Linked DNA regions of Homo sapiens. The protein of the gene in region 2 interacts with the protein of the main gene of each other region in a biochemical or structural test. Each region holds a gene or a part of one and is shown on either strand. Other genes may lie near its edges. The genes, in order: IRF8, SPI1, IRF1 and MECP2.

Region 1 (6,871 bases), on a different chromosome or scaffold from region 2:
GTTCACTGGGCTCCTCTTCCAGAACATGTCCCACTCTAGGGACCTAACCATCCCAGGGCACCCAAAGACATCCTTTGGAAGAACACTCTCACCCAAGCAGACAGCTTCCCCAACAGCACAGAGAAAGAGAGAGAGAACTAGCATGACCTATCGACTTAGAGCCAACATTTCCAAGAACAGTGCTGGAAATCCCCAAGACAGCTGGATAGACGCCCACCCAAAAAAAAAAAAAAATAGCATTTTTGTTCTTCTGATTAAAATGTGACCTCTTTGGGCAAACGAGTTTGAAACAATCAGCAGTAACAAGACATAACATCCCAAAATATGGTAGAGCCACACTGGTCCAGAAAGCAAAATATCAATCAGAACCTTCACAAGAAGTACGCATTCTGGAAACTTCAGCCACCCTGCAGGTGGCCATGAGACGGGAAACAGGGCCAGGTCCCAGGGAGGAGGAGGTGGGATTTCTTAAATTCCCCATCCAACAACCTCAGTTGTGCGTTTATGGATTTAAAAGGGGATGAGTTCAATTTTTTTTTCTTTAGAGACAGGGTCTTGCTCTGTCACCCAGGCAGGAGTGCAGTGGTGCCATCATAGCTCGCGGCAGCCTGGAACTCCTGGGCTTAAGCGATCTTCCTGCCTCAGCCCCTTGAGTACCTGGAACTACAGACATATGCCACCACACCCAGATATACATTTTAGAGACAGGATCTCGCTATGTTGCCCAGTCTGGTCTTGAACTCTCGGCCTCAAGTGATCCTCCCACATCAGCCTCCTAAAGTGCTGTGATTACAGGTGTGAGCCACTGCGCCCACCCAAATTAGACCTTGGTTTGAAAACTCTGAACTCTGGCAAAGGCTTTTCTCTAACCAGACCTTGTGACGTCACTTGAACCTCTCCCTGAGGCTTCCTCACCTGTAAGTTGAGAGGCTGTATCTCAAGAGACCCAGAATTCTAAAGCAGGCCACTGTGTTTATCATAAAGAAGGGACAGACTTGGGAGAGGGTACCTGAGAAGAGAAATGGAACACCAATACCAAAGACCCCCCCACACTCCCCGAAAACAAGTTAGCAGCTCTTTCCTGGGGCAAGGTAGAAAAATTTCTCCTAGATTGAGGAATGAGCTGCACAGAGGTGGCCAGAACACAACATAGGGGTTGGCTTCTGAGACTTTCAACTCCCCTGATTTCCTTGCTACAAGTTTCTTAAACTAGAATCCACAGTTCCTGAGCCTCCTGCAACCAAAAGCAAAATTTTGTTAGTACACGCATTTTTCTAGAAAGAGGGTCAACACTTTCTTATCAGGATTCCTAATGGATTCATAACATCTAAACTGTTCAGGACAACTATCTTGGTGATTTACAGGAAAAAGAAATTTTAAAAGGAAAAAGAGAAGAGTAAGTCATAGCATCTGAAAGCTGGAAAATACTTTAGAAATCATCTAATCCAGTCCCCTCTTTATTTAAGAGAGGAAAAACTGAGGCCCAGAGAGGCACGGCAAATACCGAGGCAGCCAGCGGACTGTGTTGGAACCCAGGCCGGCGCCCCAACGCCAGCGGCAGCTTATTTCACACATGGTGCAGAGAAAAGCCATAGTTACGTTACAAGATCTCTGCACATGTGCAGCCACGTCTGTGTGTCCTTCGTGGTCTCCTCCAAGATTCTAAGTAACATCAAAAGCCTGAGATTCTACTACAGTTATGATCCATAATGATTTATTAAACATTAACAAACGAATTCCACCAAATGCCCAGCCAGGAAAAATTAATAAGTCTAATCACATGTTTATAACTTCCTCTTCTTGATTTTGAGGTAATCTATTGGCCAAGCCCTATCTGCAGCCCTAGAAATGTATACAGCAGTCAGGCTTTCCAGGAGGGACGTGATAAGAGGTTGCCCTGGGCCCACCTAATCCAGATTACAGGTCACACCTGAGCTGGCAGCAGCAGACCCCACCCTCTCCCCCGCCTCGGAGGGCCCAGGGCACTCGCTCTGGCCTAGCATACCCGCATCACTAGACCAGAAAGCACCAAAGCCATTTCTCTCTCTGGCACCAACCTTCCTCAAGTGACTGAATCACTCCCAAATCTTTTCATAGAGGAAGCTGCCGTAACCCAAAAGGACAAGCTTTGAACTGTCATTTTAACTACCAGTTCTTACCTTTGGTTTAAAAAAAGAAAGTGGGGGGCCATTGGTTGGGGAGACTTCTTAAAATTCTGGAAAATTCAGTCTCTAGTTTCCATCCGTAAAGCCTTTCACAGCTCTGGGTAAGTAACACATCTCACCTTAGGAAAGTCTGTCCTATGTATTGGGACTCATTTTACAAACAATGTTCTTTCAATAAATTTTTTCAAACAATGCTTTTGTGAGCTGTGGCCCATATACAGACTCTCTTGCCAAGGACGACTGGGCTGTGATGGAAGCAAAGGCCCTCAAGCCAGACTCAGAAATCTTAATTGACTGTCATTAAACAGAATTTTAGAAGCAGTCTGTCCCCTCCTTCACAAACTAACCCTCAGTAACGACTGGTTATTGGGCAGTTCCACAACTCTGACCCTCCAAGCATTATTCCACGTGGTAGAATTTCAGTGGGATGATAGAGCGCGTTTCAAGATAGGGGGTTGCTATTGCCGTTCATTATATGAGCTCTCCTAACGTTTTCCATGTAAACCAGATTTAAAGAAAAATGAGATTTTTAAAAAGGCATCTATCTACCAATCTTTGGAAACAGGCAAACGACAATCAACGACTTGGGCATTCAGATTGGACTTAGGTGGCTGGAAAATAGGCAAAAAGCAGAGAGGGACACGGGTGGCCACTGAGCTGCGCCCGGGGACATTACGGTAGGTAGTTCCACCCCCACGCCCCGCCTGGCGTCGGGGACCCCGCGGGACCGGACCGCGCGGGACACGGGCGCCCTACCCGCCCACTGTGCCTACCTGCCGCCGTCCTGCCGCCGTCTCGCCGCCCGCGTTCCCACGCTTGCTGCCGCGCTCCAGGCGATGCGCCAGCGGTCGCGCGGCCTTAAAAAGGGTCGTGGGGGGGACGGGCGGTGCGCAGAGCGACGGCCACACCGACCAATAGCGTCAGCTTGGCTCGCGCGGCCCGCCTTCTTCGAAGTGCTCTGCTTTCCGAGAAATCACTTTCCCGCCCCCGGCAGCCACGGCAGTGGGGTCCGGGCCTCTTCTGGAGCCGCTGGCCGAGCCCCGCTCCTCACACCTGGGGTCCAGGGGCGGCGCTGCAGGGGGGCTTTCCCAGGAATTCCGGAGGCCCCGCGGAGCGACCTGGAGGCGTCCTCCGCCTTCCAGGCCGGCTCGGGCGGACAGCCCCGGGAGTGCGGCGGCTCCCGAGCGAGCCACTAGCAACGAGCCGGACGGTGCAGACCGTGCGCCTGCGGCCCATTAATCAGAATCCACAGCCAGAAACTAGCTGCCCCGCCGGTCTCCGCCTTCACGAGCGCTGGATATTGGGCAGTGATGCCCGCCGCGCGTTATTCCACGGGGACGGGGACGCGAAGGTCGTTTACAGACCGTCCCGGGTCACCGGTGGCCTGCGCTGCCCGGGAGGGGCAGGAGAATCCCAGCTTCAAAGGAGGCCACTGCCCGCTGAGACCGCGACTGAAACAGGAGCATCGAAGGTGCTAGGCGCTAGAAGGTCCCCTTGGGGAAATTTTCATCACAAATCCTTTTCTCCAGAAAGCGTCAGCGTTAAGAGGTCCTCTGTGGGACCAGCCGCTCCTGGGTGGGCGTTAAGATGTCCCCTGTGGGACCACCCGCTCCTGGGTGTGCACTGACATTTATTGTAAAAATGAAGTGGGGGAGAGGGAGAACGACACTGGAAAAAGAAAGAAATCCCTGGAAACGGAAAAAGAAGCGTTTCCGCGTTCTATCCTGGGGAAGCCCTGGAATGGGGGGAAAATGAGGGTCGCGATTGGCTTTTATTGCCCAGTAGAGAATCACACATGGGGGCTGTTTTTTGCGTTGAGCTTTTCAGGGACCTATGAAAATGTTTGAGACTGAAAATTTTATTGACTGCACAATACAAAAAGTATACTGCAAATCTGAGATTAATAAATGTTTAAATGAAGGTCCCCAAAACATGTTAATTTCATAATTGTAATGTATTGATGGATAAATGTTTCATTATATTTTGAAACTATAACTTAGACATCACTTGGTATGAATTCCCTAATGCCGTGATTGCCGGGAAGTCATAGTCATTAGAAAGTGAGTTCCGCAACATCAAATAATTTCAAATGAAACTACTGTTTTAACACTCACATTATTTAAGAGTATTTAGAGAATATGAGAGTGTTTTAATATATTTGCTACGATGTGGGATGGAGCTTCCAGAAATCAGAGCATCTAGGACATCAGAAGTTCTTAAAACAGCTTCTGTATATGTTTACTCTCATATATTTTTATCAATGTGGCCCTAAGCCTACACAGATTTACTTACAAATGCTGTCTGCTGCACAAAGATGTATCCTCAAGTTTCCACCAACATCCACTTAAAGACAAGGGTAAGTGAATATAGGAAATCAACAGTGGAAGGGCTCCAGCACGTGTCATTGGCAGTAGGTGTCACTATGTACATTACAGGAACTGGCTTGCATTAACACTGCTCCAGAAACCCCATATTTTCCACGTGTTGGTTCCTTGCTGCCTAGGAACAATTTCTAACCAGATGTGTTTAGTTCTGCTCTTATTTAATGGGTATTTATGAGGCAACTACTATGTGCTAGATATAGTGCCAAGAACAGGAGCCCCAAAGAATGAACATAATGTCTCAATCTTTGAGACACTCCTGCCCAGGAGTATCAGAATCCAGAACCCAGCCTGCTCTGCCAGTCTCAGCCTCTCAGCCTGGAGGCTCCACGGAGCCTGCCCCTCAGATATCGGGAGGCAAAAAAAAAAAAAAAAAAAAAATCCTTTAGCGCTTGTGTGTGTTATTACTTGTCATATTACAGTGTGGTTCTATTCTTTATTCTCTGGAATTACATTTCCAATTGAAAGACCATTTTTCTGGCTGGGCACGGTGGCTCATGCCTGTAATCCCAGCATTTTGGGAGGCCGAGGCGGGCAGATCACCTGACGTCAGGAGTCCAAGACCAGCCTGGCCAACATGGTGAAACCCCTGTCTCTACTAAAAATACAAAGAACTTAGCTGGGCATGGTGGCGCACGCCTGTAGTCCCACCTACTCAGGAGGCAGGAAAATAGTTTGAACCCAGGAGGCGGAAGTTGCAGTGAGCCGAGATCACGCCACCGCACTCCAGCCTGGGCAACAGAGCAAGACTCCGTCTCAGAGGACGGGAGGGGAGGGGAGGGGAAGAAGAAAGACCATTTTTCTGTGTACACAAGATTTCTACTCACATAATGGAAACACAGTTTTCTTAGGTTTCAAAGGGCTTTCTTTCCATTTTAGTATATGGGATCTAGCCCTTTCTAACAGCTGCATATATTTCATTGTATATATTTGCCTTAATTGAGGTCATCAATTTCCTAAATTGATTTGGGTGATCAATTTGATGACCTGAATTGATTATTACCTAATTGAGCATATCTAGTGAGCTCAGATCACCACTCCTGATCTGGAAGGTGTGTAAATAGGTATGCACATATGTAAAAATCACCCTGTCATTTTTTCTTGTCATATAAATTACAAAAATGACTACAATGAGGACACATGGCAATAAATGGTATCTCATGCAATACCATTTATTGCAGCAAAAAGATGCAGAGCATGGTCCCAGATTCTCTGATCCTTCCTTCCAGCATCTCACGATCCCAGTAAATTTCGTCCTGATCTCGCAGTGGCCTACTTACCCTCCGGCCTCCTCATCCCTTCCCTGTTGATTCTACTTTGCTACCCTACCTTTCTGTCTTCAGGGGCTTCCCATTGGTAGCCACACAGGTCAACTCCTGGCATCTAAAAGTCATACTTACCAACCTCATCTCTTACACATTCCCGCAGGAACCCCTGTTTCCATGGATGGCAGCCTACCACAGCAGGTTTGGGAGTTAGGCCCCAGTTCACATCCAAGCTCCCTGACTCACCAAATGTGTGAGCTTGAGCAAATGACTTAACCTTCCGAAGCCTCAGTCTCCTAATCTGTATAATGGCATTGATGGTAATACTAGGTTAAACTCTGTGACATCACCTACATTTAAATTTTGACCTACAGAAGGGCAGTTCACTATGGCGTAACCCAATTGTTCCTGCCTCTTAGGATTGGTGGGCATTGAGTGAGATAGTATATGTGTGAGAGAGAGAGATCTCTTTCCTCCACCTTGCTCATTAGTGCAAGAGGAAAAGGTCAAATCATCACCAATAAGAGAAGTCTAGAAAAATGGACACAGTGATTCCTAACTCTAAGAATGCCAGTTGCAGACCAGCGATAATCTGCCTCCATGAAGAATGGGAAGGGTTCCTCCCGTCTGGTCAGCTCCCTAGCTCCTCTAACACCTTCCTGCCCCCACCAGTTAACAGGTGGGTGCTTCAGACTGGTTCTCACCTCCTCACTTATGTTTCCAGCTTTTAGAGACCCTCTCCTCTTCATGGAGTCCCTTTTTCTTCCTCTTCACCTTCCTTAATTCCTATCTTCCTGATCTCCAGAAACCTTCCTGTCGAGCCTCCGTACCATCTATCTTGCTTGGCCTAAGCTGCCAATCTGTCTGCCCAGTTCTTACAGTGGAGCAGGTGCAGAGGTGATGAAGCAAGGGCACCTTCCACAGCCAGCCTCAGGACCAAATCCCTGGGAGGCCTTCTGACCCGGACAGTGCCTGCTATGGACCAGATGATGTCCCCCCAAATACATATGTTGAGCCCTAACCCCCAACGTGATGGTATTTGGAGATGGGACCTTCGTGG
Region 2 (7,188 bases):
TTTCCCATTCTATAAAATGGAGTGATATTAGACTCCACATCTCAAGGTTGGCAGATACTAATTGACCAGAATATCAAATGTTGTTGCTGGTCATGGTCATCATCATCATCATCATCATCATCATGAGTTCAAACCTCATCAAGGCTTAAAAACAACAACTATCAGGAGTAGAGAGCTTTTAAATAGGATCTGCTCTCCTAATCACAATTGAGGACTTGTTCTTTCCACCAAACTCTAACTCCTGTTCAGGCGCTCTGTGTCATTGGTCCTCATGTTCCCAGGGTCCAGCATTGGGTACAGTCCTCGGTAAACACCCGATGGACAAATGACAAAAAGAGACGTCGCAGCACACAGGGGCCAAAAGAGATACACAACAAATTTTAAAAGAGACTCTGTGCTGCAAGAGGATGGATTGAGAATAACTTTACTTGTTTTTTGGGAGGAGGTTAATGGGTGGGAGGGGTGAGAGGGGAGATCTGATTTACATACGGACTTGAGACTCCCAAGGCAGTACCCCGGGTCGTCCTCTGCAAGGTTGCCCCGGTGGGGTCTGACGCCCAGCTGGCGTCCGGGAGCCGGGGTGGAGTCCTGGAGGGAGGCGAAGCGGGATGTGGAGGGGGCCTGGAGTGGGGGGAGGGGGCGGGTGAGGCGAGGCCCGGCCCGCCACAGTCCTGCCTCTGGGCCCCGGGAGCGTCCTCCCTGTGTCCGGGCCGGGCGAGGGCTTAATGCTATGGCCAGCGGGGAGGCCTGGCGGGGCCCGGCGGGGGCTGCGGGCTCAGTGGGGCGGGTGGCGCCGCTCGGCCAGGCCCCCGCGGCCCAGCACTTCGCCGCTGAACTGGTAGGTGAGCTTCTTCTTCACCTTCTTGACCTCGCCCGTCTTGCCGTAGTTGCGCAGCGCGCGCGCCATCTTCTGGTAGGTCATCTTCTTGCGGTTGCCCTTCTGGATGCCCCAGCGGTGCGCCAGCGCCTCCTTGTGCTTGGACGAGAACTGGAAGGTGCCCTTGTCCTTGTCCACCCACCAGATGCTGTCCTTCATGTCGCCGCTGCGGAGCAGGTCCAACAGGAACTGGTACAGGCGGATCTTCTTCTTGCTGCCTGCGGGGGGGAGGGCCCGGTGGGAGGGGGCCCGGGGCCCACATGGGAGCCGCCCCCACCGCCTTGCGTACGCACAGGGGCCCGGGGACGGGGTGGCCGGGAAGGGCAGGGGAACGGCTGCCCCAGCCCGCGCCGGGCGTGCATACACAACGCACCCACACTCACACACACACACATGCTTGCGCACACACAGGCGTTCACACACACCCACTCACACCCACGCACTCACCCCCCCCACGCGCACACACTCGCACCCACACAGTGCACCAAGTACACACACATGCTCACATCCACATAACGCACCCACACCTCCTTACACATGCTCACACATCACGCCCACACCCACTCACACACGTGCTCACACAACGCACCTTCTCACACCCACTCACACTCATGCTTAAACACAATGCAACCACTCACTCATGCTCACACCCACACACGCTCACACGTACAATGTATCTGATCACACACATGCTGTCACACACATGCACACACAATGCACGTGCTCACAGACTCACACCCACATGCTCACACACATGCTTGTGCAATGCACCCAAACGCCAGATTGCACCCACACCCACCCACTTGCACATTCACACCCACATCTGCCCTCACACACTGTCACTTTCTCACACACCCACACAATGCACCAGCTCACACTCACACACATGCTCACACACTCATTCACTAACATGCCCCCACACACTGGCACCCACACGACACACCCACTCACATGCTTGCACCCACCCACATGTTCAAACCCACACTGCATCTGCTTACACATTCACAACCCACTCACACACACCTGGTCACACCCACTCATGCTCACACCTCATTCACACCCACTCACATGCACACTCACACCCACCCAATGCACCCACTCACACACATGCACACACACTCAGACCCACTTACTGCCCCCACACACGGTCACACCCAATGCACCTTCTCACACTCATATGCCCACTCACACCTGCTCACACACACCTCACACCAGGTTCACACACTCATGTTCACACACCTGCTCATACACCTCACACCAGGTCTCATAATCACACCTGCTTATACTTGCTTACACATGCTTGCACAAACACACCTGCTTACACATCTTACACTGCTCACCCTCACACCTTACATTGCTCACCCTTGCACACACATGCCCCTGCTCACACACACATGCTTACACCACACCATTCACTCACACATATCCACTCACATATGATCGCACCTACCCACACCTCACACACACTTGCACGCACACACCTGCTTACACACATCTCACGTTACTCAGCCCCACACGCACACACCTGCTCACACACATCTCACATTACTCAGCTACACACACACGCCCCTGCTCACACACTTGTGCTCACACACCTCACACCATTCACTCACGCACACACCCACTCACACATGCTCACGTCTGCTCACACACATGCTCACCTATCCATACACACACTTCCTCACACACCTCACACCAAGTCTCACACACACTTATGCTTACAAACTCATGCTCACACACATGCTAACACTTCACACATGCTAACACCTCACACATTCACACCCACTCACATGCTCACACCTCACACATGCTCACACCTCATACCTCACACACATGCTCACATCTCACACCCACTCACACACACCTGCCCACACATATCTGCACACACACATGCTCACACATATGCTCACACATCACACATACCTGCTCACATACATGCTCACACCTCACAGCTGCTCACTTATCACTCACACGCTCACACCAGCTCTTTCACACCTCATTGACACCTGCTCACTCATATTTCACACCACTTACACTTGCACCTCACACCTGCTCACGCATGCACATACATTCTGCTCATGCATATCCACTTGCATGCTTACACGCCTGTTCACACACAACCACTCAGACACCTACTTGCACACTCAAATGCTCACACACATTCTGCTCTCACATCCACTCACAGCAGCTCACACTCATGCATGCTCACACACACCTGCTCTCACACTCACACATCACACCCATTCTCTTGTTTTTGAGATGGAGTTGCTCTTGTTGCCCAGGCTGGAGTGCAATGGCACGATCTCGGCTCACTGCAACCTCCACCTCCCGGGTTCAAGCAATTCTCCTGTCTCAGCCTTCCAAGTAGCTGGGATTACAGGCGTTCACCACCACGCCTGACTAATTTTTGTATTTTTAGTGGAGACGGGGTTTCGCCATGTTGGCCAGGCTGGTCTCGAACACCTGACCTCAGGTGATCCGCCTGCCTCAGCCTCCCAAAGTGCTGGGATACAGGCGTGAGCCACCACGCCCGGCCCACTCACACCCATTCATGCTCACACACTCATTCACACACCTGCTTTCACACATACACATACCTGTTCACACACATGCACACCTGCTCACACACGCAGGTGCTTAAGCACGTCCTCACCCCCCACACACACCTGCTCACACATGGGAACACACACATGCTTACACATGTTAAAACACATATCCACTCACATACATGCACAGACCTGCTCACATATACACATACATGCTCACACACCCCAGCTCACACCTTCCTGCTCACACACACCTGCTTACATACACCCTCAAACATGTTCACACCCACTCACACATCCACTGACACACACCTATGCCCATTCACACACACTTATATCACACACATCCCTGCTTACATACACATTCACACATATACACTTGCTCACACACCTGCTGTCACACCCCCACTCACACATATCACTCACACATGCCTGCTTACAGCCACTCACATATACCATGCTCACATCCCTGCTCACACAGGCACACCCACACACTGCTGACACCCACTGACATCATACGTGCACAGCTGCTCACACGCACTGAAATACATTCATGTGTTGACAGACACACAAACATGGCCACACCCACTCTCAGCCACACCAGCTCTCACATTCACCTTCTCACACACCCACTCACACAGCCACTCGCACACATGCACCTGCCCGTACCTGTGCACACGCACCCTCTGCACACTTGCTCACACACACCCAGATGTACACACACTCATGGCACAGAGAGACACACACACCTGGCACACTTCATGGAGATGCCCGTATGCACTACACAGCAGATACACACACACAGAGACAGCCACAGACAGCCCCACAAAACACACACACTGGCAAACATGCACACACACACACACGCGACTCGGTGGCGTGGCTGCTGGGTCAGTTGGCCTGGCTGGGTGGGGGCAGGGCACAGACACGGCCAGGGTCGGGGCCAGGGTGGAGGGCCAGGTGCCCCACCTGTCTCCCCAGGCAGGAGCCCAGGCCCGGGCTCCAGGCCATCCGCCTCGCCGTCAGACACCTCCAGTGGGGGGCTCTGCCGCTCGCCCTCCTCCTCATCTGAGCTGGGCTGGGCTGGGGACAGGGATGGGTACTGGAGGCACATCCGGGGCAGGTAGGAGACCTGGACGGTGGGGGAAGGAGATCAGAGTCAGGAAGGGCCAGCTTACAGCTCAGGGGGGCTGGGAGGGAGGTCAGCTGGGGAGAGAAGGAGTGCAGAGGGCAGGGGACAATGGCAGGCACAGGAGACTGGAGGAAGAAGACCAGGGAAAAGGGGGGCCAGTTGAGGTGCTGCACATAGGGTGCAGGCTGTGGGGCGAGGGGTGCTGACATCCAGCCCACCCAGCCCTCCCAGCTGGGCCTCCTGGTTTAGGACTGTGGGCACCGGGGAAGTGGTGCCTTGTTCTCCTCCCTGCAGCGGTGCTGTGTGGACCCGCATTAGGCTGGGGTCAGAAGAGGGCATGCTAGGGACCGGTGCGTTGGGTCTGGAAGGGGGTTTCATAGGTGGGATGATGAGTGAGTGGAGGGACCCTGGAGGTCAGTAGGGGTGGTAGAGGTCAGCAGAGGTCACTGATCCGGGTTAGGGTCAGTAGGGAGGGTCACTGGGGAGAGGCAGGGTCAGTAGAGGTGTTCAGTGACTTGGTGTGGGATCCATGAGGGCTAGTGAATGGGGGTGGCAGACAGTGAGGCCCAGGAGGGCCCACAACAAGGCGTTGGGATGGGGAGGCTTGGTGAGGGTGCGAGAATTATCTGGGGTCTGTCCATACTCGGGGTGAGATGAGATAAGGGGTGTGGGGTCATGAGGTCACTTGGGGGGTCAGGCGGCAGCCGTTGGAGCTCCAGCCGCCGTTGGCACTGTGGGGCAGGAAGCTGAGTTGGGTAAGAGCCTGTGTCAGCTTCCTGTGAAGCTCCCGGGCCCCACCACAGGCCTGGCAGTCTCCTGGGGGACGGGGCAGGCGGTGGCATGCACCTGGTGGCCAAGACTGGGATGGGGTGGCACCATGGGGGTATCGAGGACGTGCATCTGCTCCAGCTCCATGTGGCGGTAGAGCTGCTGCAGCTGCGGGGGCTGCACGCTCTGGAGCTCCGTGAAGTTGTTCTCGGCGAAGCTCTCGAACTCGCTGTGCACGTGGTGGGGGTGGAAGTCCCAGTAATGGTCTGTGGGGGACAGCCAGGCAGTATGGGGTGAGCTCAGGGTTGGGCAGGGCAGGAAAAGGTTATAGTAACATTAAATAATACTGCCAGGCCATATGGGGCCTAACCATCTCGTTTAACCCTCGCCACCTGCATGGTTACTCTAGGCCTGCATTTTATAGATGAGGACACTGAGGCTTCGAGCGGCTACATAGCATGCCCAAGGTCAAAAGCATCCGGGTCACAGCCAGGACTCAGGGCTGAAGCAAAGCTCGTGTTCTCAGCAATTCCATCCTGATTCCTGTGCAGTCACACAGACCGAGCGTCTAATCCTGGCTCTGCCATTTACTTGCTGTGTGACCTCAGGCACATATGTGGCCTCTCTAACCTCAGTTGAGTTGCCTGTAAAATGGGGATCACAGTTATTGGGAAGATACGAATGAGTACACATTTGTAAAACACCTCGCACCAGAGCCGGCCCTCAGGGAAAGTTGATTCCCCTCCTATCCTGTTAAAACCTCCCAGCCAGGGCCGCGCGCGGTGGCTCACGCCTGTAAACCCAGCATTTTGGGAGGCGGAGGCGGGCGGATCATGAGGTCAGGAGATTGAGACCATCCTGGCCAACGTGGTGAAATCCCATCTCTACTAAAATACAAAATATTAGCTGGGCGTGGTGGTAGGTGCCGTAATCCCAGCTACTCAGGAGGCTGAGGCAGGAGAATCGCTTGAACCCGAGAGGTGGAGGTAGCAGTGAGCCGAGATTGCGCCACTGCACTCCAGCCTGGCGACAGAGTGAGACTCTGCCTCAAAAAAAAAAAAACTCGGCCGGGCGCAGTGGCTCACGCCTGTAATCCCAGCACTTTGGGAGGCCGAGGTGGGTGGATAACGAGGTCAGGAGATCAAGACCATCCTGGCTAACACAGTGAAACCCCGTCTCTAGTAAAATACAAAAAAATTAGCTGGGCGTGGTGGCGGGTGCCTGTAGTCCCAGCTACTCAGGAGGCTGAGGCAGGAGAATGGTGTGAACCCAGGAGGCGGAGGCTGCAGTGAGCCGAGATTGCGCCACTGCACTCCAGCCTGGGCGACGGAGCGAGACTCCGTCTCAAAAAGAAAAAAAAAGAAAAAAGAAAAGAAAAAAACCTCCCACGGGTTCCTGAGCTCCCTGGCTGCCCACAGTCTCTCTCTCTGTCTCACACACACACACTCACACAGCCTTGTCACATGGCCAAGGTGTGACAGCAGAGTCACAGGGCTGACATTCCTCACACACTAGAACTTGTCCAGGCACACGGTGGCCCTTCCTCTTCAAAGCCATGACCTTAAGCAGTGGCACCTGTGTTCCCGTGAGGTTCCTGGGACCTGAGACTTTCCTGGAAAACCCCCTGTGGGTTCCTTGAGTCTGTGGTGGAGGAGACTGAAGTCCGGGGAATAACCCCATGCCACCAAAAGCCCTGTCTTGGAACTGGGGAAGATCTTCAGCATGAACACCTTTTCCAGGAACAAAAACTGCCACACATCTGCGGGACTTCCTGGGCGCAATTCGGGGTCCAAAATGAAGCGTGGTAATAAAGTGACAAGATCGGCTGTCTCATGTGGGCCAAAGAGGGCGCCTACGAGACTCCA
Region 3 (7,331 bases), on a different chromosome or scaffold from region 2:
TCATCTAGCCACAAACCCCCTGAAGCCACACACTTTCTAAGATCTTGGCTTTTCCCTTTGAGAATTTGCTGAGATGATCGACTCTCTTCTCCAGAAACACAAGTCTGCCACCAGCCCCTCTTCCCAGTAATTCTGCATGTTGTCTCAGGGAGCTCAGGGACCCCAGTGAAGAGCCTCTGTGTTAACGTGAGTGCCTCCTCTTGTCTCTACCCTGGGCTTCCTAGGCCTGAGTCCCAGGCACACACCTGTGTGAATGGCCCAGCTCCGGAACAAACAGGCATCCTTGTTGATGTCCCAGCCATGCTTGGCAGCATGCTTCCATGGGATCTGGAAGATCATCTCCTCCTGAACAATACACACATACACATAAGGCTGTGTCAGGTCAGAGACCACAGACTTTGGGGCTGAGTCTGAGACCCAGGCCTGCCCAGCCAGACAGGTCTGAGAAAAGGCTGACTTCCCCTTTTTTCCCCTGACATCTGGCTTGGACACCCATCTTGAGGCTGGCTTAAACAGACCACTCTGGATCTCTCAGGAGGGACACCTAGTTTGGATGAGCTGCAGCATTATTAGCTCACAAAGACCTCCCTCTGCCTGTTACACATGTGCTAGGACCCACACAGGGCACCCTCCCCCAAAGCCCTGGTTTTGAAGCTCTGGGATGTTTCTCTCTGGCTTGTAAGCACCCACATGGAAGTAAGAACTTCTTCCATTAGAAAGGACTCCTCAGGACACCTGGGAGCATGGGCTCTTACACAGGGGGTCCTGGTCATACCACTGAGGGAGCTCTGGGCTAGACTTGGATGGTGAACACTGTGTAACCCTGGCATTGTCACTGTATCTCTTTGCCCCTCAGTTTTCTCTTCTCGGAAATGAGAAAACATATCCAACAAAATTTTGAGGATTAAAAACCAGAGGATGTGTAGGGACACAGTGACAAATATGAAGTCTAAGGTCTTACTGTTATTATATCACTTATGGTTAACAGTAAAGATTTCTGAGTCAGACCGTTCAAGTTCAAATCTTGGCTTCATCACTTTTTGTGTGATCTTATGATCTACCTCTCAGTGCCTCTGTTTACTTATCTGAAAATGATGACATTAGTAAGATCTAACCCACAGGACTACTGCGAGGATTAAATGACACAATGTAAATAACATACTTAGCAGGTGCCAGGCACACAGGGAGTGTTCAGTAAGCATTAGCTATTATTATGAATACTATCATTGCTACTAAGTCTATAGGGTCTATGTTGCCCCAAGTGCACCAGCTATAGGCTTCTTGGGCCAGAGTGACTGGTGCAAGATTAACTCGTTTGTCCTCTGCTAAGCCAGGCACGTTTCTGCCCAGCAGCATCCACTTCTCAGTCTTCTATTTGTTCGATTGGAGCCCTGCAGAGTGCTGTGTATGTTTGTAAGGGTCTCGCTTAGAGGAGAGCAGAACTCCAGCTCTGCAGATGCTGGAAAGTCTTGCTGCTGGAAACTGGAAGTGCCTTCAGGTGGGTGCCCTACCTCAAGAAGGGAAGAAGGCAGGAGTCATGCAAGTGAGGCCCAGGCTGGGCCGTGCACACTCCCTGCATGCAGGACCCACTGGGAGAAACACCTGCTTGTCCCGTTATCACTTCCCTTTTTGAGCTGCATCTGAAGCTTTGGTCCCTCCAGAAGTACATGGGTTAAAACAGTGGCAGGAAAACCCAAAGAGTTACACTCACTTTATTAATCCAGATGAGCCCCGGGATTTGGTTGGAATTAATCTGCATCTCTAGCCAGGGTCTCATGCGCATCCGAGTGATGGGCATGTTGGCTGTAAAGAGAACACAGAGGCTCCAGTCTGGAATCTGTTGAACAGTACCTGGGCAGTGACCTGCCCCACCCGAGGTCACTTAGTTACCCTCCCCTCACCTCAGCCAGCTGCTAGGTACTACACTCAGTGCGGAGGGGAGCTGCGCTGGAATAAAACTGCTCTCCAAATTTTTTCAGCATCTTAGGCAAAAATGCTTTTGCCCCTTCCTTCAGCCCCTCCCAGCCAGTCTCTGGAGGAGACAGGCATGCAAGTGATGGCTTCAGGATTCATATGCAGGAAAAGAGACAAAATGCACAGATACCCTAATTTCAGAACTTTTCGCTCAAAATTCAAATCCTTTGGGAAGGGAGGGACTTCTTTTGCTTGATGCCAAGAAGAAATTCCCTTGACTTGAGTTGTAACCACTAGCTAGCAAAGGGCTAGCCGTCACCCTGAACAGCCCCCTCCCGCCCCCCTGAATCCATTCTACGCCTTCCTGACAGCCACAGCGCCCACAACGCTAAGACCAGGACGCTAACCCTTCCGGCCCGGTTTCCCCTCCTCTGGAGAAGTGGCCCAAGGAACACCTGTGGCGCCTCTTCCCGCAGTCTCCGTAGGTCACGATTCCCTCCAGCCACCTGGGCAGTAAGCCAGCCCTTGCCACCAGCACAGGGAGCCCAAAACCTGTCGCCTGGGCGCGGAGCTGGGACCGCCGAAAGCCGGGAGCACTGGGCGCCCACGCGTGGGCTGACACTCGGTCCCCGGCACGGCGTGTGGATGCGCGGGACGAACATAGCGGGCCACCTACAGGCCCCTGGCGGCTGCGCGCACGCAGATCTGCGAAAGCTGCCGGGCGCCGGCAGCCTCGTCCGGGTGGGCGGTCCACGCCGCGTCCCGCCCTCCCCGCGCCGCGGCCCGCGGCTCGCAGCTCCTCCGGCGCCCCCCGGAGCCCGCGCGGAGGCCCGGGCAACGCCGCGCGCCGGCGAGTCTCCAGCCTGGAGCTTTCGACCCCCCACTTCCTGGTGCCCCGCGCGCCTTTTATTCGACGCCGCCGGTGCCCCGCGCCTCAAAGGCGTACTCACCTCTGCTGCAGGAGCGATTCGGCGGTCGCGCGCGAGGGTCCCGGCGACGCAGGGGCTGCAGTGAGGGCGCGCGGAGCGCGACTCCGAGTGGAAGAGGGAAGAAGGCAGAGGTTGCCGGGTTCTTAAGGCCGCCGGGCACGGCCGGCGTGGACTGGGCACGGCTCCGGGTGGCCTCGGTTCGGCGGGGCTCGGGCGCACGTCTTGCCTCGACTAAGGAGTGGCGAGCTCTGCCAGGGCAGCGGCGCCACCGAGCAATCCAAACACTTAGCGGGATTCCCCAGCCCTGGCCGGCCCCGCCCCCGGACAGCCGCGCGGGCGCCCATTGGCCGGCTGCGTGCCGTCATTTCGGGGAAATCAGGCTGTTGTAGAGCTAGCGGCGAAGGGGAAGTACAGGGCGGCTGCTCCGCCCCACCCTCTCCGGCCGGGCGCCACCGCCCCGGGGCCACCGCGGGCCCGCCCCGAGCGCTCCCAATCCACCCCTGCTCCGGCTTGCCCGGAGGAGGGCTGCCCGGGACAGCCCAGCGCCCCTGGCCCCAGCCTGTCCTCTCACTCCGCCTTGTCCCAGCCGGCTGGCTCCTGGGGCCATCTTTTCACCCTCCTGGCGGGGCGGGGGCGGGGGTATATCTCCCGAACGCAGGTGAGGGGATCGCCCGGGCACTTGCCGCCCTCTCCAGTGGGAACACTGGGCCGAATCTCCCGACTGGCAGCCTGGCTCCTCAAGCTTGCCAGTGGGATATCAAGAAGGGAGGGTTTCAGTCCTAGCACTACCCCTGTTTTTAGGGGTGACCCCCTCCCTCCAGGTCACTCACCTGCCCTGGGGAAGTGAAGAAGGCAGAAAGCCTACCCTGCCCCGTGTGCTGTCTGGGGCTGCTGGACCAGGGGAAATCCCAACTTGGCCGCTGCTGGCACAGCCCCCAAGGGACGCAGGACCTCTGTTTTTCAACCATAAAATAATAGTAGCCCTACCTTGATGGTTTGCTGTGATGGGAAGAGATTGTAAAGCACTATGCTCCACTCGGGCAACAGACGCTGAGTAGTTTTCAAGGTCGCCGTTGCAGGGTCTAATAGTGACCAGGATGACACCCCACCCCTTTTCGGTCTGCCTCCCTGGGACTCCCCCTGGCTGGCTTTAGGGAACAGAGGAGGAGAAGGGGTTCAGAGAAGCCCAGACGGCTGAGTGAGGGTAGGGGTGGGCTAGCTCTGATCCCTCCTAGCACTCTTGCCTCAGGCCGCCTCCAGAGCCTCCCTGTGGCCCGCGTATGGGAGTTCCGCAATGGAAGCATTGCTGTCATCTCTGAGTCCCCAGGGCTTGGCCCAGAGAGGTTCTGGGCAGCATGGAGGAATTAGCTCAGGGCTGATCAACGCCATGGGGCTAGCCAAAGGGTTGGGGAGCCCAGGTCCCATGCTCCTTGGTAAGGCCCCTACTTAACTCTCGCGCACAACTAGTCCCCGCCCCACGTATAGTCCTAGAGACTTGACTGGGTGTTCATTTTCCATCCAAAACTCTGGCCCAGGAGGCTTCTTCCTTCATCTCCCTAAAGCTCCTGCAGAAGTAAGTTACTCTCCCAGGCGTGTCATTTCCTTCACCCCAGCTCTCCCTCCAGGGCAGCACCCCATTTTGCAGGCTATAAATAGACACACCCATGCAACATTCGACTTGCCAGTCACTCTACCTCCCTCCCGTAGAGGAAATGCATGGGTTAATCCCATTCTGGCGCATTGCAATCTGAGTGCTGTGACCAATGCCAAACCTGGTTCCCAGGATACCAGCAGGAATGGGCAAAACTGTCTACCAGATAGAGGTGGGTCAGGAGCTAGGAGAGGAAAGGAGGTAGGAGAAACTGAGGAAGGAACCTAACTGAGTGTTAAGCAAAGTGGAGGGCAATGACACTCTGGAATGGAAAGGTGGGTTTTGGGGTACTTTAAGTGACAAATGGAAGTGGGGACTTGCTACAGGGACCAAGACCTTCTGAGCAAGAATAAGAGAAAACAAGTGACCCCTGAGTCGTGGGATCCTTTCTTGGTACAGCAAATAGATGCTTGTCCTTCCCCTGAGAACCTGACACATCCACTGGAAAATTCAGGATGAGATTAGGGAAAGGAAGTTTGCATCTTTGTGGTCTGATAAGTTGACCACAGTGACCCTGTGAAGGCAACAGGACACTATAAAAAATGCTTTAAAACAAAAACTTAATTTTAATTCACAGATACAGGTATAAATATACCCGTATATGCATATGTATATTTAGCCATAATGAGCATCTTTCCATGTCATGAAATGTACTTATGCAATGTCATTTGTAATAGGTATACATTATTCTTTCACAAGGATAAATAAAAATTTACCCAATTAATCCCCTATTGTAGGACAGTTAGGTTATTTCCATTTTTTCGTAATACAAACAACACTATTAGCTAAATCTTTGTGCATATCAATAATTTTTTGCTTAGGAGAAATTCCCCAGTTAGGATTTACCAATGAAACTGTCATTTACATTTACATCTTTGACCTTTTTTTTTTTTTTAACCTTAGGGATTCTTACTTTATTTTGAAGCCTGTAAGAATATGCTTATTATGACTAGGGGTGCTATACTCCAAATCAGTGAAATAAAGCTAAGCCATGTTTAAGTACCCAACATTTTTATTGTAATGGCTTTTGATGAATCACATTCTAAGATGTAGAACATTCTGTGATCCCCAGCAGAACACATAGGCTCCTGTAGGCTCTTATTAATTCGGAGCCAGCCCTTTTCTTTCCCACCTGGTCTTCTGGGTCTTCCTTCCCTGTATCGGGTTGTGATTTCATAGTCCAGGACCAGACTATTGTTGCCCCAACCTCCCCTTGGGCCTCCTTGCCTTGCCCAGGTAGATGGGGAAGATGGTGCCTCTGCACTGGAATGATCTCCCTAACTCGGATGATCTCCCTAACACTCGGGGCCACCCAGGAGCCTTCTGAGCTCCCCTACATTCAGCCCCACATTCAAATCTCTGCTCAGTCTTGTCCTGGGGTCCCATTCCAACCTTCTGTCCCTGACAGCTTCCCTACCCTTGGCAGTAGGGAAGATGAAACTAAAGGGGGATGAAAAGAGAACACAGGATTTGAGTCTGAAAGCCTGGGTTCTTATTGTGCTTTTTCCACTTGCTATGTGATCTTAGCAAGTTACTGTCCCTCTCTGGGGCTCAGTTTTCTCATCTGTAAAATAGAGATAATCTCTCTCCATCTCTCCTAATTGTAAAATTAGACTATCAAAATTATTTCCAAACTGTAAGACATAAGTCAAATGAAATGTATGAACAGGAACGCATGAACCTTTCACTGTATTTCCATTATCTGAACACACTGTGTTTGTCCCCTCATCCCTGTCTCCTCAGGATACTTGGCAACACTCACCCTCTCTCCATCTCTCTCTCCCTTGCCCACCCCACCACTTCAATCTCTGTGTCTTTTTTTAAGGCCCAGAGCATATGCCTGATCTCTTCAAAATGCCCGCAAAGCAACCAACCAGAAGTCCTTTCTTTTCCCTCCTTGGACCCTTTGGTCCTTAACTTTCCTATGTTTCCTTTTCACCACTGGTCACTTTCTACATGGTGGGAACAAACTCTGGGGAACAAACTCTACATTTTTTCTGTGAGAAAAAGAACTCTCCATGTTTTCTGTGAGAAATCTAAGCAGGTTCCTCATGCCCAGCAGCTGAAGCGAGCTAGGGGTTAGCTGAGGGTAGCCAGCACCCTGCACTGTGCAAGGTCTTCCTTACAGATGCCTCTCATCCATAGCCTCACTCAATGAGGGTGAATTCATTGTGTGGCCTCTCTGTATTGGGACCTGGATTTTTCTGTGCTGGCAAGAGGAGGCTAACTGGCTGGCAGGGGCTCCTTTGAAGTGACTTCTGCAATCAGGATGCTGAAGGCAAGATCATCTCACACACACATTCACACACCCTGTGGGAGCCTCTACCCTGACAGACAATTCTTGTCCCCAGTCCCCTCCCTCAGGCTCTCAAAACACTGTTCACCCCCTAAGTGGGCTGCAGTTAGTCCTGAAGCCCAGAAGCATGGCTCCCAACATGTCACCATGCACACACACATCAATGCACAGGGCCACACGGACCACACTAAGGTGATGCCGCCATCCTTGCACTCCCCCGAAGAGTGGCTACCATGGTAGGCACTCAGTAAATCCTAGTTAAGTTGATGTGTGACCCCTCTTCCTCTGGAGTTTAGTGTTCCTTCTATCTCAGATTATGAATTCTCTCAGATACAGACATTTCTTGGCAACCTGTGGTTAAATCCTCTGCTGATAGAGATGAGTGTGTGCTCAGAAATGAGAGTTTGTGAGAGCTGAGGTGCAGGTGCCAGTGAGGTTTAAACTAGGTGTTTTTTTGTTTTGTTTTTTTGAGACGGAGTCTCGCTCTGTCACCCAGGCTGGAGTGCAGTGACGTGATCTTGGCTCACTGCAACCTCTACCT
Region 4 (7,188 bases), on a different chromosome or scaffold from region 2:
ACAGAAGGGTTGTCAGGCTGAGGCCCATTCTGCTGGTTGGTGCCTGGGCCTGAGTCACCATCTAGAACATTCCCAAGTTTGAACTCAGGTACGGTGCTCAGTCTCTCCAGGAATCAGTTTCAACAAGATAATCCTTTGCTCACCCTTCTCATGGAATTAAATGAGGCTGTCTGCAAATGTCATTTGAAAACTGCTAACCTTTTTGGGATCATTTAAAAGGCAGAACTGAAACATGCTTCTTCACCCCTCTGAACCCCTAGCTCTGCAAGTTCCTCTGCTTCCGCAGCTATTCCATCCCCAGATAAAGACTTGAGGTGTGGAGAGGATAGAGGGCCTGCTACCTTGAGAACTTCCCACTCAGGGCAGCGACCTCTGTACACGGTCATTTCAAGCACACCTGGTCTCAGTGTTCATTGTTTATGTTCCCCCCGACCCCACCCTGGGCACATACATTTTCCTGCTCCATGAGGGATCCTTGTCCCTGCCCTCCCTGCCCTGTAGAGATAGGAGTTGCTCTTACTTACTTGATCAAATACACATCATACTTCCCAGCAGAGCGGCCAGATTTCCTTTGCTTAAGCTTCCGTGTCCAGCCTTCAGGCAGGGTGGGGTCATCATACATGGGTCCCCGGTCACGGATGATGGAGCGCCGCTGTTTGGGGGAGGCAGAAGCTTCCGGCACAGCCGGGGCGGAGCCTGACCCTTCTGATGTCTCTGCTTTGCCTGCCTCTGCGGGCTCAGCAGAGTGGTGGGCTGATGGCTGCACGGGCTCATGCTTGCCCTCTTTCTCTTCTTTCTTATCTTTCTTCACCTTTTTAAACTTGAGGGGTTTGTCCTTGAGGCCCTGGAGGTCCTGGTCTTCTGACTTTTCTTCCCTGAAGTGTTAAACAAGTATGTAAGTATCACAGAGAACATGCCAGTCTGCAGAACAAGTGAGCAGAGGCAGGCTTGGACCCCCACCACATGCAAGGCCCCAGGCCATCATACACTCAGATCTTGATGTCCTTCCCCAGGACAACAGAGACTCGGGCCAAGCTGGGACCCAAATATTTCTTTAGGAATTTGGGCTGTGGGTGGTGCTGGCCGGTGTGCCTGACCTGCACTGTGGCCACCCACAAGTCTCCTAGCACTGCAGGAGAATCAGAGCCCTTTCCTCTGAGCGGAAACACTGCGGCTCCTGAGCATACCACCCCAGCATGAGTCGCACTTCAAGGGACTCTGGGCTCGATGGCTGACAAGAGGCCGTCGACTGCTGGAAAGGGAGCCAAATGGGGGAGGGGTCTCCTTTGTGAAGGCCGGGCCTTGGGTGTGTTTTTGGTTTTCTAGAATGAGGCTCAATGAGGCACACAGTACAGTGTCATGGAAAGCACACACAGGTTTGGAGCCAGCCAACCTGCACTGAAATCCTTTGCCGCTTTCCAAACATGAACCCAGCAAATGACCTCAGCATTCTGTGCTTCAGTTTCCTTATCTTGACAACAGGTAACCCCATCTAGGCATCCTTACTGTGAGCATCACAGGAGAAAAGGCACAATGGCACTATATAAATATCAGCTAACTCAGGCCACAGGAAACTACCGCCTAGGGTCCTGGGGGTGATAAGACAAGTGGTCCCAGGTGGCGTGAGCCTCTAACACATGTTCCCTGATGAGGAATGGCCTCGGCCACAGCAGATGCGGAGGGAAGAGCAAGGAAAAAGGTGTGGTCCAGGCAGAGCCATACATCCCCTTCCTGCCGGTGGAGAAGAGCACCCTACCTATTCTAGTGTGGGAGGCTTCCCCGTTCTTTTCTGGTGACCGAAGCAGCTCCTTCTCTACACATCACTTTGGCCCGGTGGGGTCTCGTCAGAAATGGCCACCGTGAGGCCCCACACCCCAGCATCACTATCTGGCCATGATGCTCTAGTACTCTGTCGAGTATGCCACCGTGAAACCTCCTAGGACTCCAGAGCCTCTGCAACAACAGGGGCAGCTTGGAAAGAAGCAGCAGCCACCTGCGAGTCCCTTCGTTAGCAGTTCATTCTGGAAAAGAGCATGACTACTCCCACCCTCCGTGTTCTCAGCCCCACAACTCCCCTGTCCCATGTGGTTCACATCAGTGCTAGTCACCGCCTTGCGGCTGGTCTACCCCAAGAGACTTCCCCTCTTGTCTACACTGCACAGACTGTGCAATGAGGGCACCATGGCACTCACTGGCAAGCATCCTTAGGAAACCAGAACTCAAATGATGTAGGGAAGTTACCAAAGGCTGCTTAGTGCTGGGACTCAGAAGCTGCAAGGACGTATCTCTCCAGAACCATCAGGTCAGGTGTAGGGAGGCAAGAGATGTTCCAATCTAGTGACAAGGTCTTAGAGTGAGGGAATGTCTTGTCCCCACCATGACTCACCCCTGAGTTCCTCCCTATCCTGTATCTTCCTCCAGAAGTTTAGGGCCCAGAGTGTGGCTGCCAGAGTCACCTAGAGCCACTGCATACACAAAGGCATCCTACAACCCACAGAGCAGTCTTTCTTGCTGTAAAGAGGGGTCCCTAATCTGTCCCAGCACAGAGCTCGCCTTGTTTTGTTTTTTGTTTTTTTTTTGAGATGGAGTCTCGCTCTGTTGCCGATGGCATAATATCGGCTCATCGCAACCTCCGCCTGCCGGGTTCAAGTTATTCTCCTGCCTCAGCCTCCGGAGTAGCTGGGATCACAGGCGTGTGCTACCACGCCAGGCTAATTTTTGTATGTTTAGTGGAGACGGGGTTTCACCATGTTGGGCAGGCTGGTCTCGAACTCCTGACCTCAGGTGATCGACCCGCCTCAGCCTCCCAAAGTGCTGGGATTACAGGCGTGAGCCACCGTGCCCAGCCAGAGCTTCCTTTTCATGTCTCTGAGTCTTACAGCTCTCAATGGGAAATGACGAAGAACCCTGGAAAGCTAGGTGTGGCCTGTTGCCCACCAGAGATCAGCCTTTGAGAATGGACCCCTAGGCAGCTCCCCAGCTCCCCATAAAGGAGGGAGGGAAGGGGAGCCACCAGCAGAGTGGGCCAAGAAAGCAGACAGATGGGAATCGCTACTTCTACACAATCCATCATGGCACTGCCTAACGCCAGGGCTGCTCCCTAGAACCCGGACGGTCCTAATGTCAGAGAAAAACAGTGAACTAATGGGAAAGATCTGGCTTCTTCGAAACTCTCATTTGCATTTCCCAAATACCTTAATCACCATGAGGTCAAACTATAAACCTAAACGTGACGTAAGGAATGCCTTCTAGAAATCTATGCTAAAGAGACACCTCCAGAAATCTCAAAGAACATATGCATGATGTTATTTGCTACAACATTATTTTTACCAGCCAAAGGCTTCCAATACCCCCGATCCCTATCACCAGGGCACTTGCTGAATAAACTTATGGTGCGCCCACACACTGGAGTACTGTGCAGATCCAAAGGGACTAAACAAGAGCTCTAAGAACTGCGATGGAGTCATTTCCAGGATCCACTGTGAAGCAAAGGGAGCAAAGCGCAAACATATCTACTGCATTCTACCAAAGAAAGAAGGGGGGGTATTAAGGAAGGACACACCAGGAACTAATGAAATTGATTCCCTGCATGGGGTAGGGGGAAAAAGGTAAGGGTACAGGCACAGGAGTGAGGCCTAGCTGAACATGCCTCAGTGTAATTCTGACTTCTGAATCATGTAAATGTTTATATTACCCAAAATAAAATTCAAACTAAAAGTAACAAAACCTTATTACACTTAATGCAAATAAAAACAAATGAGTTCGGGCCAGGCATGGTGGCTTCAGCCTACGATCCCAGCACTTTGGGAGGCCGAGGCGGGTCGATCACCTGAGGTCAGGAGTATGAGGCTGCAGTGAGCCATGACTACATCACTGCACTCCAGCCTGAGTGACAGAGCAAGACCCTGTCTCTCTCTCTCTCTTTTTTTTTTTTTGAGACAGAGTCTTGCTAGAGTGCCATGGCGTGATCTTGGCTCACTGCAACCTCCGACTCCTGAGTTCAAGCCTTCTCCTGCCTCAGCTTCCCGAGTAGCTGGGATTACAGGTACCTGCCATCACGCCCGGCTAATTTTTGTATTTTTAGCAGAGACGGGGTTTCACCATGCTGGCCAGGTTGGTCTTGAATTCCTGACCTCAGGCGATCCACCCACCTTGGCTTCCCAAAGTGCCGGGATTACAGGCATGAGACACCACGCCTGGCCAAGACCCTGTCTCTTAAAAAAAAAAAAAAAGAAAAGAAAAAAGAAAAGAAACAAATTTAATTCTATATCAAATTGACAATATACCACAGAGAAAAGATTTATTTCAAATGACTTTTGACTACAGTGCTCTGCAAACCTGTAGTGGGACATATTCTAAGGCCAACAATAACACTCCAGGGGCAGTAAACACACTAGATTGGCTCCCAGGAGAGATATGTGATTCTGCTTCTGGGGCATCTTGTGCCAGAAAGCCCGGGGAGTGCAAGAGAAAAACAGGGAGGGCCCATGAGAGGCCTCTAGCAGTGGTCCAGGTGTGGCCCAGGGTGGGGGCAGTTGAGGATTTGGGGCTGGTCTAGGTGGTGAAGCAACAGAGCTCGCAGGTGGATTAGTGTGGGGGTGAGGGGCAAGGGTGAGTCAGGGACCATGTCCAAAGCCTGGGAAGATGGTGGTGCCACTGATTGAGAAGGAAAAGACTGAGGGGCCGGCTGGGTGCAGTGGCTCTCACCTGTAATCCCAGCACTGTGGGAGGCTGAGGCAGGTGGATCACCTGAGGTCTGGAGTTCGAGCCCAACCTGGCCAACATGGTGAAACTCCGTCTCTACTAAAAATACAAAAATGAGCCGGGCGTGGTGGCAGGTGCCTGTAAGTCCCAGCTACATGGAAGGCTGAGGGAGAAGAATCGCCTGAACCCAGGAGGCAGAGGTCGCAGTGAGCTGAGATCGCAAGACTCCGTCTCAAAAAAACAAAAACAAAAACAAAACCACTGGAGCGGCAGGGGAGCAACACCCACAGAGACAGTTATACCATCAAGGAGAGAAAACAGTTCTTCAGCTACTCGCTAGAAAGGGGGGAAACCCCGCTGTGATCAGATTCTGAGTTGGGCCTGAATGAAAATGAACTGTCTGCTTGGGGTTTTAAAGGCTTTTTATTGTGGTAAAATATACAAAACAGGTCAGGTGTGGTGGCTTACACTTGTAATCCCAGCACTTTGGGAGGTGAGGCAGGTGGATCGCTTGAGCTCAGGAGTTTGAGACCAGCCTGGGCAACATAGCAAAACCCTGTCTCTACAAAAAAAAAAAAAAAAAAAAAAAATTAGCTGGGCATGGTGGTGTGTGCCTGTAATCCTAGCTACTCGGGAGGCTGAGGCAGGAGGATCACTTGAGCCTAGGAAGTTGAGGCTGCAGTGAGCCGTTGATCATGCCACTGCACTCCTGCCTGGGCGAACAAACCAGACACATATATGTCTCAAAAAAAAATACATATATATATATATATATATATATATATATATATATATATATACACACACACACAAAACAAAGTTTACCTTTTTAACTATTTCTAAGTGTACAATGAATGAACTTTTTTTTTTTTTTTTTTGAGACGGAGTCTTGCTCTGTCACCCATGCTGGGGTGTGGTGGCGCAATCTCGGCTTACTGCATACAGGCTCTGCCTCCCTCCTGAGTTCAAGCGATTCTCCTGCCTCAGCCTCCCGAGTAGCTGAGATTACAGATGCGCACCACCACGCCCAGCTAATTTTTGTATTTTTAGTAGAGATGGGGTTTCGCCATGTTGGCCAGGCTGGTCTTGAACTCCTGACCTCAGGTGATCCACCCACCTGGGCCTCTCAAAGTGCTGGGATTATAGGTGTGAGCCACCATGCCTGGCCCTAAATGAACTTTTAAGAGCACTGAAGATGGGAAATAAAGGGTCTTTAACTCTACTGTAATATTCTAGTTCTTTCTAATGGAAATTACTTGAAGCAAATATAGTATGATGATTTTCAATTCTGTGCAATGAAAGGCACATGGGTGTTTGTTAATTTGCTGGCTGCTACTTTTATAATTAAAGACAAATTTCAAAAAACCCACAAAGAAGCCTGGATTGTGCTGGGTGTGGAGTGCAGGTAAAAATGATAAAAAACGTGGATGGAGCTGGAGTCCATTGTCTTCAGTGACACAGCTCAGACACAGAAAGTCAAATACCGTACGTTCTCACTTAGAAGCAGGAGCTGAATAGCATGTGCACATGGACAGAGTGAGGAATGGCAGACACTGGAGAGACTGGGAAGGGTGGGAGGGGGTGAGGGATGAGACATTACTTAACGGGTACAATGTCCACTATTCAGGTGATGGTTACACTGAAAGCTCAGACTTCACTACTATACAATATATCCACGCAACAAAACTGCACTTGTACCCTTTAAATTTAACAAATAAAAAACAATGATAGAAAACAGGTATTCCAAATGAGTTTACCCTTAGCCCAGAGGGCCTGCCCAGTCCCAGGGTGACCTGGGCATTTGCACACCCTCACTAAGCCTTCACTGCAGGACCCAAGGGAGGGAGGCTGGGCTAGGGTGCCAGGTGACTCCCCAAGGCTGTCCCCCAGGGGGTTTATGGTGTTTGCCGAAACACAAACTTTTTCAAAGAAACCTGCCAGGTGTGGTGGCTCATGCCTATAATCCCAGCACTTTGGGAGGCCGAGGCAGGTGGATCACCTGAGGTCAGGAGTTCGAGACCAGCCTGGCCAACATGGCGAAAACCCCATCTCTATTAAAAATACAAAAATTAGCTGGGCATGGTGGTGCATGCCTGTAATCCCAGTTACTCAGGAGGCTGAGGCAGGAGAATCACTTGAACCCAGGAGGCAGAGGTTGCAGTGAACCGAAATCGTGCCACTGCACTCCAGCCTGGGTGACAGAGTGAGACTCCATCTCAAAAACAAACAAACAAACAGAAAACAAAACAAAAAAAACCCCATACACCTCTCTTCATCCTCCCTCTAATCAGAACCCCCCACACACACACAATCTTGATTATGAGGAGAACTAAATAGCTAGTTCACAAGTTCATACATTTTACAGTTGAAGTATCCTCAGAAAAACCACCTATTCAACTCCTGAGTGTTACAGATGGAAAAAAAGAAGTTCGACTAGACAGAGGAACTTGTCTGAGATCACCGTGAGTCAAAAACACACGTGTC

What was found.
Region 1: the proteins of SPI1 (region 2) and IRF8 form a complex in vitro, tested with the Homo sapiens proteins (3 studies listed by BioGRID).
Region 3: the proteins of SPI1 (region 2) and IRF1 form a complex in vitro, tested with the Homo sapiens proteins (2 studies listed by BioGRID).
Region 4: the proteins of SPI1 (region 2) and MECP2 form a complex in vitro, tested with the Homo sapiens proteins (2 studies listed by BioGRID).

What each region holds. Positions count from the first base shown.
Region 1 is NC_000016.10:85,895,291-85,902,161, reverse strand, and holds the start of IRF8 (interferon regulatory factor 8), read right to left. Parts: upstream 3,001-6,871; 5' UTR 2,939-3,000; exon of another isoform or gene 916-2,938; intron 1-915. UniProt on the Homo sapiens protein: Transcription factor that specifically binds to the upstream regulatory region of type I interferon (IFN) and IFN-inducible MHC class I genes (the interferon consensus sequence (ICS)). Can both act as a transcriptional activator or repressor.
Region 2 is NC_000011.10:47,354,452-47,361,639, forward strand, and holds the end of SPI1 (transcription factor PU.1), read right to left. Parts: intron 5,590-7,188; coding exon 5,402-5,589; intron 4,556-5,401; coding exon 4,393-4,555; intron 1,096-4,392; coding exon 776-1,095; 3' UTR 409-775; downstream 1-408. UniProt on the Homo sapiens protein: Pioneer transcription factor, which controls hematopoietic cell fate by decompacting stem cell heterochromatin and allowing other transcription factors to enter otherwise inaccessible genomic sites.
Region 3 is NC_000005.10:132,487,681-132,495,011, forward strand, and holds the start of IRF1 (interferon regulatory factor 1), read right to left. Parts: upstream 3,094-7,331; 5' UTR 2,865-3,093; intron 1,804-2,864; 5' UTR 1,799-1,803; coding exon 1,712-1,798; exon of another isoform or gene 991-1,711; intron 346-990; coding exon 246-345; intron 1-245. UniProt on the Homo sapiens protein: Transcriptional regulator which displays a remarkable functional diversity in the regulation of cellular responses.
Region 4 is NC_000023.11:154,031,683-154,038,870, forward strand, and holds part of MECP2 (methyl-CpG-binding protein 2), read right to left. Parts: intron 5,180-7,188; exon of another isoform or gene 2,242-5,179; intron 876-2,241; coding exon 525-875; intron 1-524. UniProt on the Homo sapiens protein: Chromosomal protein that binds to methylated DNA. It can bind specifically to a single methyl-CpG pair. It is not influenced by sequences flanking the methyl-CpGs.